Homo sapiens: one gene and its partner. The gene in region 1 interacts genetically with each later gene. Each region holds a gene or a part of one and is shown in the gene's direction. Other genes may lie near its edges.

What was found. A genetic interaction does not mean that the proteins touch.
Region 2: changes in E2F4 (region 1) and NOD2 together harm fitness more than expected from each alone (negative genetic interaction), as found in Homo sapiens cells (one study listed by BioGRID).

What each region holds. Positions count from the first base shown.
Region 1 is NC_000016.10:67,187,109-67,195,972, forward strand, and holds the start of E2F4 (transcription factor E2F4), read left to right. Parts: upstream 1-5,046; 5' UTR 5,047-5,119; coding exon 5,120-5,254; intron 5,255-5,652; coding exon 5,653-5,762; intron 5,763-5,900; coding exon 5,901-6,062; intron 6,063-6,363; coding exon 6,364-6,407; intron 6,408-7,289; coding exon 7,290-7,351; intron 7,352-7,577; coding exon 7,578-7,872; intron 7,873-8,673; coding exon 8,674-8,864. Other genes in the region: EXOC3L1 (exocyst complex component 3-like protein), read right to left, coding at 1-30, 117-729, 1,613-1,832, 1,912-2,072, 2,523-2,568. UniProt on the Homo sapiens protein: Transcription activator that binds DNA cooperatively with DP proteins through the E2 recognition site, 5'-TTTC[CG]CGC-3' found in the promoter region of a number of genes whose products are involved in cell cycle regulation or in DNA replication.
Region 2 is NC_000016.10:50,717,540-50,725,642, forward strand, and holds part of NOD2 (nucleotide-binding oligomerization domain-containing protein 2), read left to right. Parts: intron 1-2,385; coding exon 2,386-2,469; intron 2,470-5,082; coding exon 5,083-5,166; intron 5,167-5,761; coding exon 5,762-5,845; intron 5,846-7,949; coding exon 7,950-8,033; intron 8,034-8,103. UniProt on the Homo sapiens protein: Pattern recognition receptor (PRR) that detects bacterial peptidoglycan fragments and other danger signals and plays an important role in gastrointestinal immunity.

The sequences.
Region 1 (8,864 bases):
CCCAACTCCAGGCTCCCCATCATTTCCTGCCTGGAGATAGGTGGCCTGGTGTCACACCAAGCCACCAAGCCCCCAGCCTCTGATCCCCCATGTCCCGCTGCCCCAAAGGCACTGACCCCAGGTACACATGCAGTGCCCAGTGCAGCAAGGCGAAGGCATCCGCAGCTTCTAGCTCAGGCCCTGCAAGGAGGTTCTGCAGGCTGCGGCGCAAACCACTATGCAGCGTGTGGGCCCATAGCTGGACCACGTTGTACTGTGGCGGGCAGCAAGGCGCTACTAGTGCCTCAGCTGTGGCCAACTCGACTGGCAGGGCCACTCGCAGAGCCTCCAGCCACCCTGGTAGGGCCCCTGGTGCAGGCAGCAGAGGTGACCCAAAGTGGGCCTGCTCCAGGCCCTCCTGTAGTGCCCTCAGACAGCGCTGACGCCAGTCCCGGGGGACCTGGCCCAGGGGGGTTGTTCGTCCAGTCTCCACCTCCGCCACACGCACAGCAGCCACCAACAGGGCTGGGTCCTCCCGTGCCAGCTTCCCTGCGGCCCCTGCAGCTGCTTCCACAGCCTGGCCCAGTGCCTCGAACAGAAGGTCCAGCCCCTGGAAGACTGGCAACTCCAGGCCCCCCAGGGGTGCCCACGTATCCTCTCGCAGCTGCTCCAGCTCCCGAAGGCTCACATATGCCTCCAAGAACTGTTGGCCATCAATCAGAGTCTGTGTGTGGGACACTGCAGCCGGCACTAATGAGAGTGAAAAGGAGACGGCCCTGGGTCTCAGCCTTCCCACCGCCTCAATGTGTACAGCAGGGGATACTGAGGCCCAGGGCGGGGGTGATGCATAAAATATTTAACAACCAGTAGAGTAAGCTGGGCACAGTGGCTCATGCCTGTAATCCCAGCACTTCGGGAGGCCAACGTGGGTGAATCACTTGAGGTCAGGAGTTTGAGACCAGCCCGGCCAACATGGTGAAATCCCATCTCTACTAAAAATACAAAAATTAGCCAGGCATGGTGGCACATGCCTGTAATCCCAGCTACTGGGGAGGCTGAGGCAGGAGGATTGCTTGAACCTGGGATATGGAGGTTGCAGTGAGCCGAGATCACACCACTGCACTCCAGCCTGGGTGACAGAGTGAGACTCTGTTTCAAAAACAAAACAAAACAAAAAATGAACAAAAAACCATAAATAAATAAATAAATAACCAGTAGAGTACTGGCCAATCTAAGAGGATCTTGGCAATGTCCTAAAGACCTGGTGGGCCAGAGGTCAACCCATGAACTCATGGAATATGAGGAAGCTGAGGATCCTGGAGGGAAGGCAGGGGAAATCGGGGGGTCCTGCCAGTACTCGCTCAGCCACTCTGTTAGGGAAGAGTTTGAATATACTGATAACCAGGTGGCCAGAGTCACATGACTGGGTGTCTGTCCTGACTCAAGCATCCCACACGTGGGAATCCCAGGATGAGCTGCCTCATAGGCCATGGGAAGCCCGGGCTACTGTCTGGGAGGTCCCTGGTGTGCTGCTCTATGCAGTTCCCCATCTAGTGCCCCAGCCCCTTGATTAGGGATGGGTGTTTGTGGACTGACTATTGGAGGCTGAGGCCCAGGGTCCCTGCATGCTCACCTGCCCGCAGCCGAGGCAGCAGGTGAGACAGGGCCTGCAGTTGCTTGTGCTGGGCAACCCGCTCCCGTAGGGGCTCTAGAGTCTGTAAGGCCTGGGACATGCCCTGGAGCAACCCACGGGCCTGGCTCAGGGCCTCCCGGGTTCCCTGCACCACCTCAATGGCCTGGGCCAGCTGCCACACACCAGTCTGCACGCCTTCCAGGTATGACTGCATCACTGACTGTGGAAAGATGGAGCCATGAGGCTGGGCCAGCCCTGCAGCACAGTCCCAGCACCCGCACCCCCTGCCCCATGCCCACCTTGAGGCGCGATTCCAGGGAGCAGGTACGCTGCACCTCGCGGCTGCGGTACTGGCCTAGCCTGGCCAGCTGCTCCGGCCGGTAGAAGATGCCTGAGGCCCACTTGAGCGCTGCACCCCGGGCCAGCTGCTCTGCCCGCTCCTGCTCTGGCCACTCAGGTCCTGGGAAGGAAGAGCCTGGGCAGCCGTGTAGTCAGGGAGGAGGGCCCAACGACCCCAGTCCCAGCTTTCTTATTTATTTATTTATTTATTTATTTGTTTGTTTATTTGTTTATTGAGATGGAGTCTCGCTCTGTTGCCCAGGCTGGAGTGCAGTGGTGCAATCTCGGGTCCCTGTAACCTCCGCCTCCCGGGTTCAAGCGATTCTCCTGCCTCAGTCTCCCGAGGAGCTGGGATTACAGGCGCGTGCCATCACGCCCAGCTAGTTTTTGTATTTTTAGTAGAGACGGGGTTTCACTATGTTGGCCAGGTTGGTTTGGAGCTCCTGACCTCAGGTCATCTGCCCATCTTGACCTCCCAAAGTGTTGGGATTACAGGCGTGAGCCACTGCGCCCAGCCAGTCCCATCTTTGTTGCCATCATTCCTCCCCTAGTCCACCCAAAAGGTTCATACCAGGGGACAACGCCGGCTGCATCTCATCCTTGGCTGCTGAGTCCATTGTGGGCCTGGAGGAGCCAGAGCTGAGGTGGGCCCGGGGCAAGCAGGCAGAGTAGATGCCCCTGTGAGCTGCTGCCTCTGTCTAAGCCCTTCTGAGAGGAGGAAGGAGGTTCTTCCCGGCCCCCTCGGGAAGTGAGAGGGAGCGGGTGTGATGCGGAGGGCACCTGGGAGGCTTTGCCTGCTAGGTTTCCCAGTCGTGCCCCTGCAGATGTCAAGCGAGACAGAGTGGGCACAGGCCTCCACTGGACCCTGGTCCTGCTCTGAGCTGCACAGGACAGTTTGGTACAGAACTTACCAGATTTGATCAGGCGTCCAGTTCTCCCTCCAAAAATGACCTTGGCCTTGAGAACAGCCCTCTCCCCAATGCAGCTGGGCACGCCTGCCACTTGCTCACAGGGCCTGGGCAACTCCAGCTGACTCCAGCGTGCAGCTGAATTCCTCTCCCCAAGGAAGTCTCTCTCCCACTCCCCACCCAGAAGCCCCTTCTTCCCACCGAGGCTCCTCCCTCCCCAAGGCCATCAACAGAAAGGAAGGAAGCTGAGTCTCTGGCATTTTATTCCCAACAGGAAAGAGTGTCTGCACAGAGGGTGGGGACAGCTGGGCGACACTTCCCTGAGGGGCGGGGGGGTGGGGTGTACTTGTACTCAACCAGTCTTGACCAGCCTACCCAGAACCTCTTAGTGCTCAGGAGAGGAGATAGGGATTTGCTAGACTTGGCCTCAACCTGGGGTGGTGGGCAGAGTGTGCAGATATGGATGCAGACGACATCAACAGCACAGGATGAAAACTGTGTTGGCCAGCCTCTGAGGAGGATGTGTACCTCTGCGGAGGAGTGAGAGGTGGCAGGCTCTTGTGAAGAGGGGTGTGGTGGGGGGTGGTAGGAGAGGGTCATGAAAGCTGTGTTTATCTTTTTTGTTTTAGACAGGGTCTTGATCTGTCACCAAGGCTGGAGTACAGTGGCACCACCATAGCTCACTGCAGCCTTCTGGGCTCAAGCGATCTGCCTGCCTCAGCCTCCCAAAGTGTTGGGAGATTACAGGCGTGAGTCACCGCAACTGGGCAGCTGTGTTTATCTTGAGAGTTATAGGGAGCCAGGGAAGGGACTATAAGGTGGTAATTATTTAGTGGATGTTCAGTCCACCACCCAAATCCACCCTTCAGGACAGAAGTGCTCATTCTCCAGCTGCCAGGAGTGTAGGCTACTGAGATCACACCACTGAGTCTCTCAGTCAATATTGGGGTGCAAAAGCATGGTACCATCGTGTGAACATGAACCCTTCAGAAGTGCTACCCCAATTTCAGAGATCCTAGTGGGATAGGCTGAGGCCTATAATATAATTGCATCTGCTCAATTCTGCTTGTCTTAATCCCTTAAAGGTGTGGATCCTGACCAGGTGCGGTGGCTCACACCGGTCATCCCAGCATTCTGGGAGGCTGAGGTGGGAGGATCTCTTGAGCCCACGAGTTCAAGACTAGCCTGGGCAATATAGTGAGACCCACATCTCTAAAAAACTAAAAATAAATGAGCCGGGCATGGTGGTGCATGCCTGTGGTCCCAGCTACTTGGGAGGCTGAGGTGGGAGAATCGCTTGGGCCCAGGAAGCTGAGACGGCATTGATCTTGCCACTGCACTCCGGCCTGGGCAACAGAGTGAGACCCTGTCTCAAAAAAAAAAAGTGTGGATCCCCAACAAACTTGCTGCAAAACCCTATCTCGAGTCCCATTTCCCAGAGGACCTGATCTAAAAGAAACAATAATAAATAGTAACAATGTTAAAAGTTACAAAATGACCGTATCACACATTCCTGCATGCCAGGAATGACTGAGTGCTTTACTGATATTTACACATAGGTAAACACGTTTGCATTGGCTGAAGTGTTCATAACCCCATAGTCTCTGAGCACTGTACTGTGAGGACAAGACGAGCGAAAGATGAGGCTAGGACCATGGGTGGAACAAGGTGGACAAGGTAGATATAGTTAGTGCTTGCTGTTTGGCAGGAAGTGAGGGATAGGAATAGATGGGGTGACCCCAAGACAGTAGGGCAGCCTTTAGGAACAGGTTTGATGTGGCAGTAAAATGAGTTTGAAATATATAAAAGAATAAATAAAGAGAAAAAAATGGAAAAGGAACAGGTTTGAGGGAGCAGATTGGATTAGTCAGGTAGTGTGGTCTCCTCTCCCAAGATGGGGACTAGGCAGAGTTAGTGATGTTGGGGCAGATTGGCAAGGAAAGTTCCGATGGCGTCCCCTTCTCTACTGCCAGGGCGGCCCACTGACGCCCTTCTCATTCCTCCCCAACTTCATCCCAACTCCCCGGTCTACCCAGGTAGTTTTCGTCTTATTCGGAGGCTGGACATTTGCTACTGGTCCCTGAAGTTTTGCGGCTGCACCCACAGACAGCAATAGCGCCACGTTCCCTGGAAGGCGCACGGGACGGAAGCGGAAGCAGTAACGCTGGCTCCGGCTGCCCGGCGGCCAGGAACGGAAGCGGAAGTGGCGGCGGCGCCGGCCTGGCCTGGCCTGGCTGAGGGGAGGCGGCGGGCGGGCGCGATGGCGGAGGCCGGGCCACAGGCGCCGCCGCCCCCGGGCACTCCAAGCCGGCACGAAAAGAGCCTGGGACTGCTCACCACCAAGTTCGTGTCCCTTCTGCAGGAGGCCAAGGACGGCGTGCTTGACCTCAAGCTGGTGCGGCCTGGGCTAAGGGGAGACAAGGGAGGCTGGTGGACCAGGCCTGGGCCGGTAGCGGGAACCCCGGGGGCGGCCCAGCTGGGTCCTCCGAGAGCCGGCCGCCATCGTGTGCTTTCTCACAGGAGAGAAGCCGGGGGATGTTTCATTCATTCGGCCGAGGCCATCGAGCTACAGCTATGGGCCAGGCTCGGGCTGCAGGTGTTCGTCCTCGTGGCCCTTCCTGGCTGGCGAGGAGAAGAGCTGCCTATGGGACAGAGCTGCGGTCCTGAGCTGCAGTAGCGCCTGGGAGGCACTACAGGGTTGGAATCCAGATTACTCCCTTCCCAGACCACGTCTCAGGGTGGCTGGGGGTACACCCCAGAGTGGGGCTGAGCATTCTCCATTCTCTCTGCCAGGCAGCTGACACCCTAGCTGTACGCCAGAAGCGGCGGATTTACGACATTACCAATGTTTTGGAAGGTATCGGGCTAATCGAGAAAAAGTCCAAGAACAGCATCCAGTGGAAGTGAGTGGGCATAGTGGGAGGGTAGTAGAGTCTCCCACCCAGAAGTGTCGGGCGTGGGGTGGAGGGTGCCGAAGAAGGCAGGGGCCATGGGACCCAGAGTTCTCAGCAGTCCCTCTCAGCCCCACTCCCTGGGCTCAGGGGTGTGGGGCCTGGCTGCAATACCCGGGAGATTGCTGACAAACTGATTGAGCTCAAGGCAGAGATCGAGGAGCTGCAGCAGCGGGAGCAAGAACTAGACCAGCACAAGGTGTGGGTGCAGCAGAGCATCCGGAACGTCACAGAGGACGTGCAGAACAGCTGATATCCTCCTGGCGGTCCCTGCTGGGGGGAGTGGGCAAGGGGCCCTCTGGTTCAACTTGCCCTGAGTCCTGTTCCTCTTGGGAGTTTGTCTTATAGCCACTGGCCATGGCCCAGCCTCAGGCTCCCTCCTCAGAGCCCCTCCCCTTCCACTCTTAGCCTGTGATCCCTCCCCCGGTGGACCTGAGTCCCCAGAACGGTCTCTGAGGGCCTGTGTGTCAGACCTTAGCTAAAGAATTGGGTCTTTTCTGTAGTCTGCCATCTGTCACCATAGGGCATCAGCCATTCTCCTTAACCCTCACACTTTGGCCTACGTCACTCATGAGGACATCTGCAGATGCTTTGCTGGTGAGCAGAGCCTGGGTAGGGGTAAGGGGGTGGGCTGGGCTCAGCCAAAGTCCTGAGCACTGGGCTCAGTGTCTTAGGAGAGTTCTGTCTCTTAAGAGGGTTTCTGGGGCCTGCTCAGAGAGGAACCAGGCAGGGTAAGTCTTCTGTCTGAGTGTCACTGGGACCCTGTGGAGGTCAGCTATACCAAAAGGGTACAGAAATTCTGGAGTGGGTCCCTGGGTCTGTTCCCATCTCTACTGTTTCCTGGATTTGGCTTCTTGGGTATGATAGAGGCACAAGGGGGAGAGAGGGAGAGAGGATATGTGTGTATTTGCTTGTGTGCAGGCTCTTACATGCAGGGCATGGGGGTGCCCACTTCCAACTTGTTAGTTTAGTTGCATTGTGAATACAGGATCTGTTCCTTTTTTTTTCTTTTTAAGAGATGGGCTCTTGCTGTGTTGCCCAGGCTGGTCTTGAACTCCTGAGCTCAAGCTGTCTTCCCTCCTCAACCCCCTAAAGTGCTGGGATTATGGGTGTGAGCCACTGTGCCCCGCTGATGTGTTTCTTCTCCATCTTGTATGCTCCTGACTGGTCATGGGAAAGGGATGTTGGCCTTGGCTAGAACACCCTCACCTAGGGATCAGCCATCGGTAGAGGAATGAGGTGCCTGTGGCCAGTGATCTTTCACTCCACATAATTGAACCCAGATTTCCTGGTTACTGACCCTGGGCTCTCAGGAAGAGAAGAGCTTTAGCTCTGCCTGGCCACTATGGGGGATGGGTGAGGCCCACTGTCTAGTTCCTCAGGGACCGTGATCTCCTGCCTTGCTCCAAAAGGCAGGCACCTCTGTTCCCAGCTCAGATTGAGCCCATGGGCTCTGACCCATTCTCCATGTCATTCTAGGAGATACCCTCTTGGCCATCCGGGCCCCATCAGGCACCAGCCTGGAGGTGCCCATCCCAGAGGTGGGTGCTTAGCCCAGGCAGGCGGGGTCAGCTGAGGGCGGGTGCTGGCTGTGGAGCCTGATAAGTCCTGGGTGGGGCAAGTAGGGGGAGGCCTGGAGTTTGGGGTTATCTAGGAGGATGGGCATCCTGGGTGGGAGAGGACACTGTGGTCCTGACCCGGAGTCGGGCAGGAGCCAAGCCTGCTTACAATTCTACCCATCTCCCATCCCTTACCACCCATCTCTAGGGTCTCAATGGGCAGAAGAAGTACCAGATTCACCTGAAGAGTGTGAGTGGTCCCATTGAGGTTCTGCTGGTGAACAAGGAGGCATGGAGCTCACCCCCTGTGGCTGTGCCTGTGCCACCACCTGAAGATTTGCTCCAGAGCCCATCTGCTGTTTCTACACCTCCACCTCTGCCCAAGCCTGCCCTAGCCCAGTCCCAGGAAGCCTCACGTCCAAATAGTCCTCAGCTCACTCCCACTGCTGTCCCTGGCAGTGCAGAAGTCCAGGGAATGGCTGGCCCAGCAGCTGAGATCACAGGTGAGGCACCATGGGAGCTTGTGACAGAGGCCCAAGAGGTAGTATCTCTGTGTTGTGGAACACCATGCTCAGAGTTGGAAGAGACTCTTCAGGTTGGGGATTGTCCTTTTCCTGACCACCTAGCCTTCCCTTGCTATGGTAATGAATGAGCCTTTTTTGTTTTTGTTTTTGAGACGGAGTCTCACTGTGTCCCCCAGGCTGGAGTGTGCAATGGCGCGATCTTGGCTCACTGCAACCTCTGCCTCCCAAGCTCAAGAAATTTTCCTGCCTTAGCCTCCTGAGTAGCTGGGATTACAGGCGCCCACCATGCGCAGCTAATTCTCGTACTTCTAATAGAGATGGGGTTTCACCATGTTGGCCAGGCTGGTTTCGAACTCCTGACCTCAAATGATCTGCCTGCCTCGGCCTCCTGTAGTGCTGGGATTACAGGCTTGAACCACCATGCCTGCCTGAATGGGCCCTTTTTAACAGGGAACCTCTGACTGTGGGAAGAGCCATTGCTGGTGGCAGTTTTCTCCCCCAGATCCACATCCACTGGTGTCTCAATTGCCCTGGTAGCCCGTCTTGAAGTATGGCCACAGCAGACATGTTGACCACGAGTCTTCTTCTGTAGGTCTTGTGTCCCTGTCTCCTGTGGTGACTAATTTCAGGTTACTTCCTCTGGGGGTGACTGGCAATGCCTAATTCTCCTTGGGTCTGGGAACCAGGCTTGTGGTCCTCCTGTGTCTGGGTTCCAGCACAGCCAGTTTCAACGACCTCTTCCTGACCTTGTATGACTGGGTTTGGGGGCTATCATTGTAGTGAGTGGCGGCCCTGGGACTGATAGCAAGGACAGTGGTGAGCTCAGTTCACTCCCACTGGGCCCAACAACACTGGACACCCGGCCACTGCAGTCTTCTGCCCTGCTGGACAGCAGCAGCAGCAGCAGCAGCAGCAGCAGCAGCAGCAGCAACAGTAACAGCAGCAGTTCGTCCGGACCCAACCCTTCTACC
Region 2 (8,103 bases), about 16 Mb from region 1:
CTCTCAGATATTCTTGCCTCCTGTGATTTGTGAGGCAGTAAAAAAAGACAAAGTAAAGAATTGCTTCCATCTATTCTTTTACCTCTTGGGCTGGGTTTGTGGATGGGAGCCGCCATTTTAAAATGGCGGGCCACATAGCTCAGTCTCGGCAAGGGCTACTGAGATCAGAACCACAGGTGCCAATTTGTACAAAGGACTCAGTCCTGCTACCACTGCCTGATCCCTCAGACTCACAAGCCTGGAATAGGCTGTGGCCAGACCTGGCTGGCCCATCCCTGAGAAGGGTGCTAGTTTCAGAAATGGAGGCTGAGTTTGTGGCCAACACAGTAGTCCTCCGGTATGTGCAGGAGAGATGTTCTAAGACCCCAGTGGATGCCTGAAACCATGGAGAGTATCAAGCCCTACACATACCATGCTTTTCCCAATACCTACACACCTGCAATAAAGTGTAGTTTATAAATTAGGCACAGTAAGAGAGTAATAGCAACTCATAATAAAATAGAACAATTATAACAATCAATGTACTATAATAACACTATGTGAATGTGGACTCTCTCCATCTCCCTCAAAATATCTTCTTGTACTGTACTCACCCTTCTTCTTGGGAAGATGTGTGGTGGTAAAATGCCTGTGTGATGGGAGGAAGTGAGGTGGATGACGCATGCAGCACTGTGCTCTAGCGCTGGGCTGCTGTTGACCTGACCACACTTCAGGAGGAGAATCATCTGCTCCCAGAGATCCCTAATCTTTGAGCAACAATGAGGTCGGCAGCTGGATGTCAGGAGCAGACGATCTTGATGATTACCAAATGGGAGCGTATAGAGCGTGGATGCGCTGGACGGGGGGCTGATTCACGTCCTGGGTGGGATGGAGCTGGATGGCACGTGATCAGAATAGCATGCAATTTAAAATGTATGAATTGTTTATCTCTAGAATTTTCCATTTAATATTTTTGGACTGCAGTTGATTTCAGATAACTGAAACCATAGAAGGCGAAGCTGCGGATAAGCAGGGGGCAGGGATTACCGTATATCATTGTAATAGAGAGCACAGGCTCTGGAGCCAGACTGCCCGAGGTTTGAACCCTCATTAGCTGCGTGACCTCAGGTCAGCCCAATGTCTGTGTGCCTCCGTTTCCCCTTCTGTAGAATGGAGGTAATAACCCTGGCTACCTCACAGGCTGTAGTGATGAGCAAGCAAGTTAATCCACATGAAGGGCTGCACCGTCTGGCAGGGGCTTTATATAGTAAGCGAGTGGCTGAAAGATGATGGGTAAATCACACAAGCACTCAGCTTGTTTCTCCTTATGTGAGTCCGGTCCTCCAAGCAGGGATTCAATGTGCCACCCATTTATTGGGGAAAAGTCCTAAAAGGGGAAGTGGGGAAGGGAGCTGGGGGAGGCTGGGAGGTGTGTCCCTGAGTGAAGGAGAGAGGGAAGGAAGGAAGGTTGAGACTGGGCACCTTGGACTTCAGTGCAGTCCTAAGACATCTTGGCAAGGCTGATGAGGAGTTCTTGAACCAAATTCACCAGGCAGGGGAGCCTGATGTCTCAGGCAGGGGCTGGCAAGTGCAGATGCGAGGATGTTAGATTTTGGAGCACAGCAGCTGGGGCCCTTGGCTACCTCCAAGGAGCTGAGGCTGGAGACCTGAAAGGCGAGTTCTCCTAGCTGCCACACCCCTTCTCCAAGGATACAATAATATCTGCCTTATAGGATTGTTGTGAGCTGAGTGGCTTGACGTTCCTTGAAAGAATGAAAGCGTATAGTTATCCCAGGAAGCCTAGGGTTGCAGGTGAGAGCTCTGGGGCTTCTCCGAAGCTCTCCGAGGTGTCTGGATTCAGTTGCAGCAGGAGCCTTCCTTGCTGGGATCTTCCCCCACCCCTAGCCTTGGCCCTCCCTCTCTCCTTCCTTTCTGGAAGGCTCAGTGGGCCCCACCCCTCCCTCCAGCCACCTGGACCTGCCCAGCGCTCTTGTGCAACAGGTAAAGCCTACCTGTAGCAACAACAGATCTGGGAAGGCTGCAGAGGGCACGATGGGGTCTGGATCGAGGGCGGCTGAGACCAGAGGGAAAGGTGTGACCCTGAGTCACCCTCGCTGTCCCGGGGAAACCACCTCCCAGGACAGCTGCCTACTGTGGCTCCTGCCTGGAATTGTCACACTGCTGTGCAAACAGCGTCCCGCTGCCCCTTTCCCTTTGCTGGGGGAAAATGAAGTTGTGGGAGCCGCTGAGTAAACTAGACCTAGCAGCGAGGGCACCTGATGTGGCTGCTGCCTCCCGGGCAGGTCTTCAATGCTTTCTTCCTGTGTTTCCCTGGCCAGGGCACAGACGGCCCTCCTTTTCTGCCTGCCGCTGTGTTCTCTCAGCCTCCTCTGTCTTCCCTTCCAGGCTGGGGAATAACTACATCACTGCCGCGGGAGCCCAAGTGCTGGCCGAGGGGCTCCGAGGCAACACCTCCTTGCAGTTCCTGGGGTAGGTTGGATTCCAGGAAGAGGGACCTGCATGGAGGGGCTTGGGACTTTTGAGGATTTAGGGGCAGGTGAAACTCTTCAGCCAGGAGGCCCCAGAGGCAGCCCAGCTCCAGTGGGGAGGACAAGCCAGGGAGAGAGTGGGCGGCCCTTGACTGCCACCTTCATACTTGGTCTATGCCTGACAAACAGGAAGTTTGGGATGTTGGGGCTAGGGGAGGACAGTGCCCACGAGCTGGTGACAGGAAGCCCTCTGATCCTCAGGGGGCGCTAGGGCTGTACTTTAGCTGCATATTAAAACCACCTGGAAGCTTCTAAACACTATTGCCAGGCCTCCCACCCCAGACTGATGAAATGCAAATATCTAGGTGCAAGGCCCAGGTATCAGGAGTTTTAAAAAGCTTCCCAGGGGATGTACAGCCAGGGGTGAGGACCCCTGACCTAAGAAAGAGAAGGAAATGGGGAAGGATAGGAAGGCACCCAGGATAAGAGGGGCTGTGCTAGGTCCCTCGGAGCTCTTGCTCCCTGTAGGACCATGCTAGGGCCTGCCAGGGAGGGGAGTACCCCAACCTGCAGCCCCAGGGTGGGCTTCCTCTGTTTGCTAGGCACCCAGGCTTGCACCTGTGCTGTTTCCAGCAGCCTCTCTCCTATCCTGTCATGCCCTAGTGTGAACTGGAGTCCATTTGACAAGAACTGGGAGTTTTAGAACCTGGGACTGTAGGAAGAGAGAATAACCTTAGGGCCTAGGTGTTCCAGCCCATTTCACAGGGAGGCAAGTTGCCCCCAAGCTCAGTTTTTTGTTTTGTTTTGTTTTGTTTGAGATGTAGTCTCACTCTGTTGCCCAGGCTAGAGTGCAGTGGCACGATCTTGGCTCACTGCAACCTCCGCCTCCTTGGTTCAAGCGATTCACCTGCCTCAGCTTCTCAAGTAGCTGGGATTATAGGCACCCACCACCACGCCCAGCTAATTTTTGTATTTTTAGTAGAGACAGGGTTTCACCATGTTGGCCCGGCTGGTCTTGAACTCCTGATCTCAGATGATCCGCCCGCCTCGGCCTCCCAAAGTGCTGGGATTACAGGTGTGAGCCACCGCACCCGGCCCCCAAGCTCAGTTTGAGCCACAAATGGGACTATGTTGCTCTAGAAATCAACATCTTTTCCACACTGCATTAGTAGCAACAGAGTCTAGAACAAAGGAGGCCACAGCCCCACTGAACTCTCTTCTGCTTGAGGTCACATCTGCCACATCAGGGGTATTTACCTCTTTCAACACATATTTATTAGGGCACCTGTCTGGGCCAGGCGTTGTGCTAAAACCCCCAAACGCTGTCATATGATACAAAGTGTTCTGTAACTTGCTTGGTTTTTTTTTTTGTTTGTTTGTTTGTTTTGTTTTGTTTTTGTTGTTGTTTTTTTTTGCTTCGCCATATATTATAGGAATTTTTTTAGGTCATTATGACCTCTTTATTTACTTAATTATCTATTTATTTATTTTACTAATATTTACAGAAAGGGTCTCACTCTGTCACCCAGGCTGGAGTGCAGTGGTTGCAATCATAGCTCATTGTAGCCTTGAACTCCTGAGCTCAAGTGATCTTCCTACCTCGGCCTCCTGAGTAGCTGGGACTACAGGCACAAGCCACCATGCCTGGCCGATATTTTTATGTTTTGTAGAGACGGGGTCTCACTATGTTGCCCAGGCTGGTCTCAAACTCCTGGGCTCAGGTGATCCTCCCTCCTTTGCCTCCCAAAGTATTGGGATTACACAAGTGAGCCACCTTGCTCAGCCTGACCTCATTTTTCAAAGAGCTGCAGAGTGTTACATAATGTATTTAACTGGTCACTTTTTGATGACTATTAAGTTGTTTTCAGGTTTTTTGTTATTACAGTGTCATATCCCTGGGGCACAGAGCAGTGCTGGCACATAGCCAGAGCTCAATCGATACATACCTAATGAATGAAAGTACAGTGGACATCCTAATTCAGCCATTCTTTGCTAACTTGTGTACATACCTGTCCAGGGTAGGTCCCTAGAATACAGTCAATAAGTCAGAAGGTGTGAGTTGGGATCTACCTTTTGGAAAGGGATGTTTTCAAACTACAGTGAGTCAGAGGAGGATGGCCCAGAAGCTGGGGGAGTTGAAGCTGATGGCGTGAAGGAATTAGGGGTGTTAGGAAGAAGCAGGAGATAAAGAGCTAGCTTGCAGAAGAAGTGTTAGACTTGTTATGGGCAGGTACTGGAGGGTAGCTAAGGACTTGTGGGTGGCAGTTACCAGGAAGCGTATCTGAACTAAGTGTCAGAAAAAGTGTCACAACTGTAAATTACTCTTGTCAGTGAGTTCCTGTCCTTAAGGGTTAGGGCTGGGTAGCCCTCTACTATTCTCTAAGTCTGTAATGTAAAGCCACTGAAAACTCTTGGGTTAAGTTTGGCCATCCCACCCAAAAGATGGAGGCAGGTCCACTTTGCTGGGACCAGGAGCCCCAGTGAGGCCACTCTGGGATTGAGTGGTCCTGCCCCTCTGGCTGGGACTGCAGAGGGAGGAGGACTGTTAGTTCATGTCTAGAACACATATCAGGTACTCACTGACACTGTCTGTTGACTCTTTTGGCCTTTTCAGATTCTGGGGCAACAGAGTGGGTGACGAGGGGGCCCAGGCCCTGGCTGAAGCCTTGGGTGATCACCAGAGCTTGAGGTGGCTCAGGTAAGCTTCAGAGTCTATCCTGCAGTTTTCTTGGGGAGATCAGGTGAAGAGGGAGGAGCTGGGGCCAGTTCTGAAGGTCTTTGAACTTTATTTCTACCCCACAATGTTAGGCAATGGAGTAAGGAAAAAAGACCATTGGATTTCAAGAGAGGACACTCGAGTCTTTCTGGGTGACTTGGAAATGTCCCTTGTCCTCTCAGGGTTTTGATACAGTATCTGTAAATTGAAGATATTGGGCTGGATCAGGTACATTTTATCTTAAGGACCAATTCCAATCCATTGGTAGTGGGTGCCCAGTGCACCACATTAAAAAGAATTCTAAGGCTGCACCTGGGCTTAAAGAAGAGCACTATAATCAATTAGTGATGTCTAAAAAAGCTAAAAAAAAAAAAAAAAGAGCACTGCATTCAATTAGTGATGTCTAAAAAGGGTAGAAAAAAAAAAAAAAAGAAAAAAGAAAGAGCACCGCAATCAATTAGTGATGTCTGAAATGGAGCAGACCAGGAGAGCACCACGAATTTTGCCCTCCATAGGTTAGCTCATCTCTGAGGTCTTTCCCTGCTCTGACATACTTTTGTTCCATGATTACCTCCAGCCTGGTGGGGAACAACATTGGCAGTGTGGGTGCCCAAGCCTTGGCACTGATGCTGGCAAAGAACGTCATGCTAGAAGAACTCTGGTGAGTTTGGGGGATTCTCTGCTCTGGGGAAGTGGATCACAATCTCTGTTGATCCCCTGGCCTCATCCATAGGAGCGGTTGTGTGGACAGACAAAGGTGGATGATTGAGTGATTGACTGATTGATTGATTGTGTTTGTCTTTATATGTACTGAGTGGTATGAAGCTTATAGAGCCTGGTATGTACATGCTAATTTTTTTATTTAATAAAATATATGGGTTTGCTGGTTTGGTGACTGCCTCCACATGGCATAAGTGTTAAGAGCACAGACTCTGTAATCAAGCAGGCCGTGATCTTAGGCAAGTTAAATAACAATTTCAGAATCTCAAGTTTCATGTCTGTAAAATGAGGGTAAGAATACTTCCAACCATAAAGGATTTTTGCAAGAATTAGATAAAGTAGTGCCTGTGAAGACCTTAATATAGTGCCTGGCATATTTGTAAGTGCTCCATAAATGTTAAATTAGAATAATGGCAGGGTTACTACTACTATTACTGCTGCTGCTGCTGCTGCTGCTGCTACAACTACTATAGTACTGTGACTACTACTACTAATAAAGTTTTGTTATTTTAAAGTGATTTTGAGTTCCTAGGAGCACTGGGTATTCAAGTCTTAGGTCATTTTGGAAGGTGTAATGGAGTTTTGATAGTTGAAAGAGGAACCATGAATCATGCTTATACTGTTGACCTGAAGCAGATTCTAAGTTTCTCATCCTTTAGATGCCACTAGTATAGTTTTCTGACATGTTCTGGGCAGCTTCAGATTATGTCAGGGAGATAAAATACTGAATGTTTGATTTTCCCGGGAAGCAGAAAGGCACTGCAACATATGGGCATTGCCATAAACAGATTTTATGGATGGACCTTGGCTGTTGCAGGGCTTACTAGCTCTACTCAAGTATGATTGATTCTATCCTGACTGGATTTTGCCACTTGGAATTTCTTAGTAGAGGAGAACCTTGTTATGAGAGCATCAGTTATGATTACTGTTAAAAGAAAAACTTTAGGCAAATTAAATTTAGCAGAACTGGTTTGAACATACAGCAATTTATGAATTGGGCAGCATTCAGAACTGGGAGTGCTCCACCCAGCAAGGTAGGCAAGCAGTATCTATAGACAGGAAAAGGAAGTGATGTACAAAACAGCTTGATTGGTTGCAGCTGGGCATTTGCCTTATATGGGCATGGTGTGATGAGGCATTTTCTTTATATGGATATAGACTGATCAGCTGGTAGACTGTGACTGACTGAAGCCTGGCTGCTGTGATTGGCTAAGACTTAGCTGTTTGTTATAAGGATATGTTGTTAGGTTGCAGTTTGCTACATAGGAACTCAAAGTACAGAGGCAGTCTCAGGCCAAATTTAGTTTAACTATATGTTAAGCTGCAGGTGACAGAATACCTCCATCTATAGAGGTTTAAACAAGGAAAGGGTTTATTTTTTCCTGTATAGGCAGCTGGATGTAGGCAGTGTAGGGTTTGTACAGTGGCTACAAGAGGCCAGGAGGGGTCTCAGCTCTGTCTCATTCTCTTCCTGTTCCATCATTCTTAGCCTGTGACTTCATTCACATGGTTGGTTGTCTCATGATCACAGGATGGCTGCTCCAGGTGCAGCACTACTTCTGTATTCCCGGATTCGATCTATATACCCAGGAAAGCCATCTGGGTTCTCTCCTTTAAAAAGCATTCCTGGAAGCCCCACCTGTCGACTTCCCCTTATGTATCAACCATGTGTATGTCACTTGACCAACCCACTTGTATGTTGTTTGACCAGCCCTGGCTGCAATGGAGAGTGGGAAATACAGTTTTTTCACCAAGTGCATGGCTGTCCAAATGAAATGAGACTTCCATTAATAAGGAAGAAAGGAAAGATGGAGATCAGGAAGCTGGGGGATCAGGGAACTTATTACATTGAGAGCCCTTGGAGTGAATTCTCTTGCAAATATGTCCCTGGAATTGAGAATCCCCACAACGTACTTTATCTGTTCTTTCTTTATCCATGAGTTTGGGTTTTCAGATGTTGGATTTCCTATATGGGGGGCATGTGAGTTCATCATCTTCCATAATCAATGTTGTATCAACTGGATTTTCTCTCTTCTTCTCACCAGCCTGGAGGAGAACCATCTCCAGGATGAAGGTGTATGTTCTCTCGCAGAAGGACTGAAGAAAAATTCAAGTTTGAAAATCCTGAAGTAAGGAACCCATAAGCAGGAAACAGGACAATAATTGCTGGCCTTTGGAAGGGGCATTTCTGAATAAGAT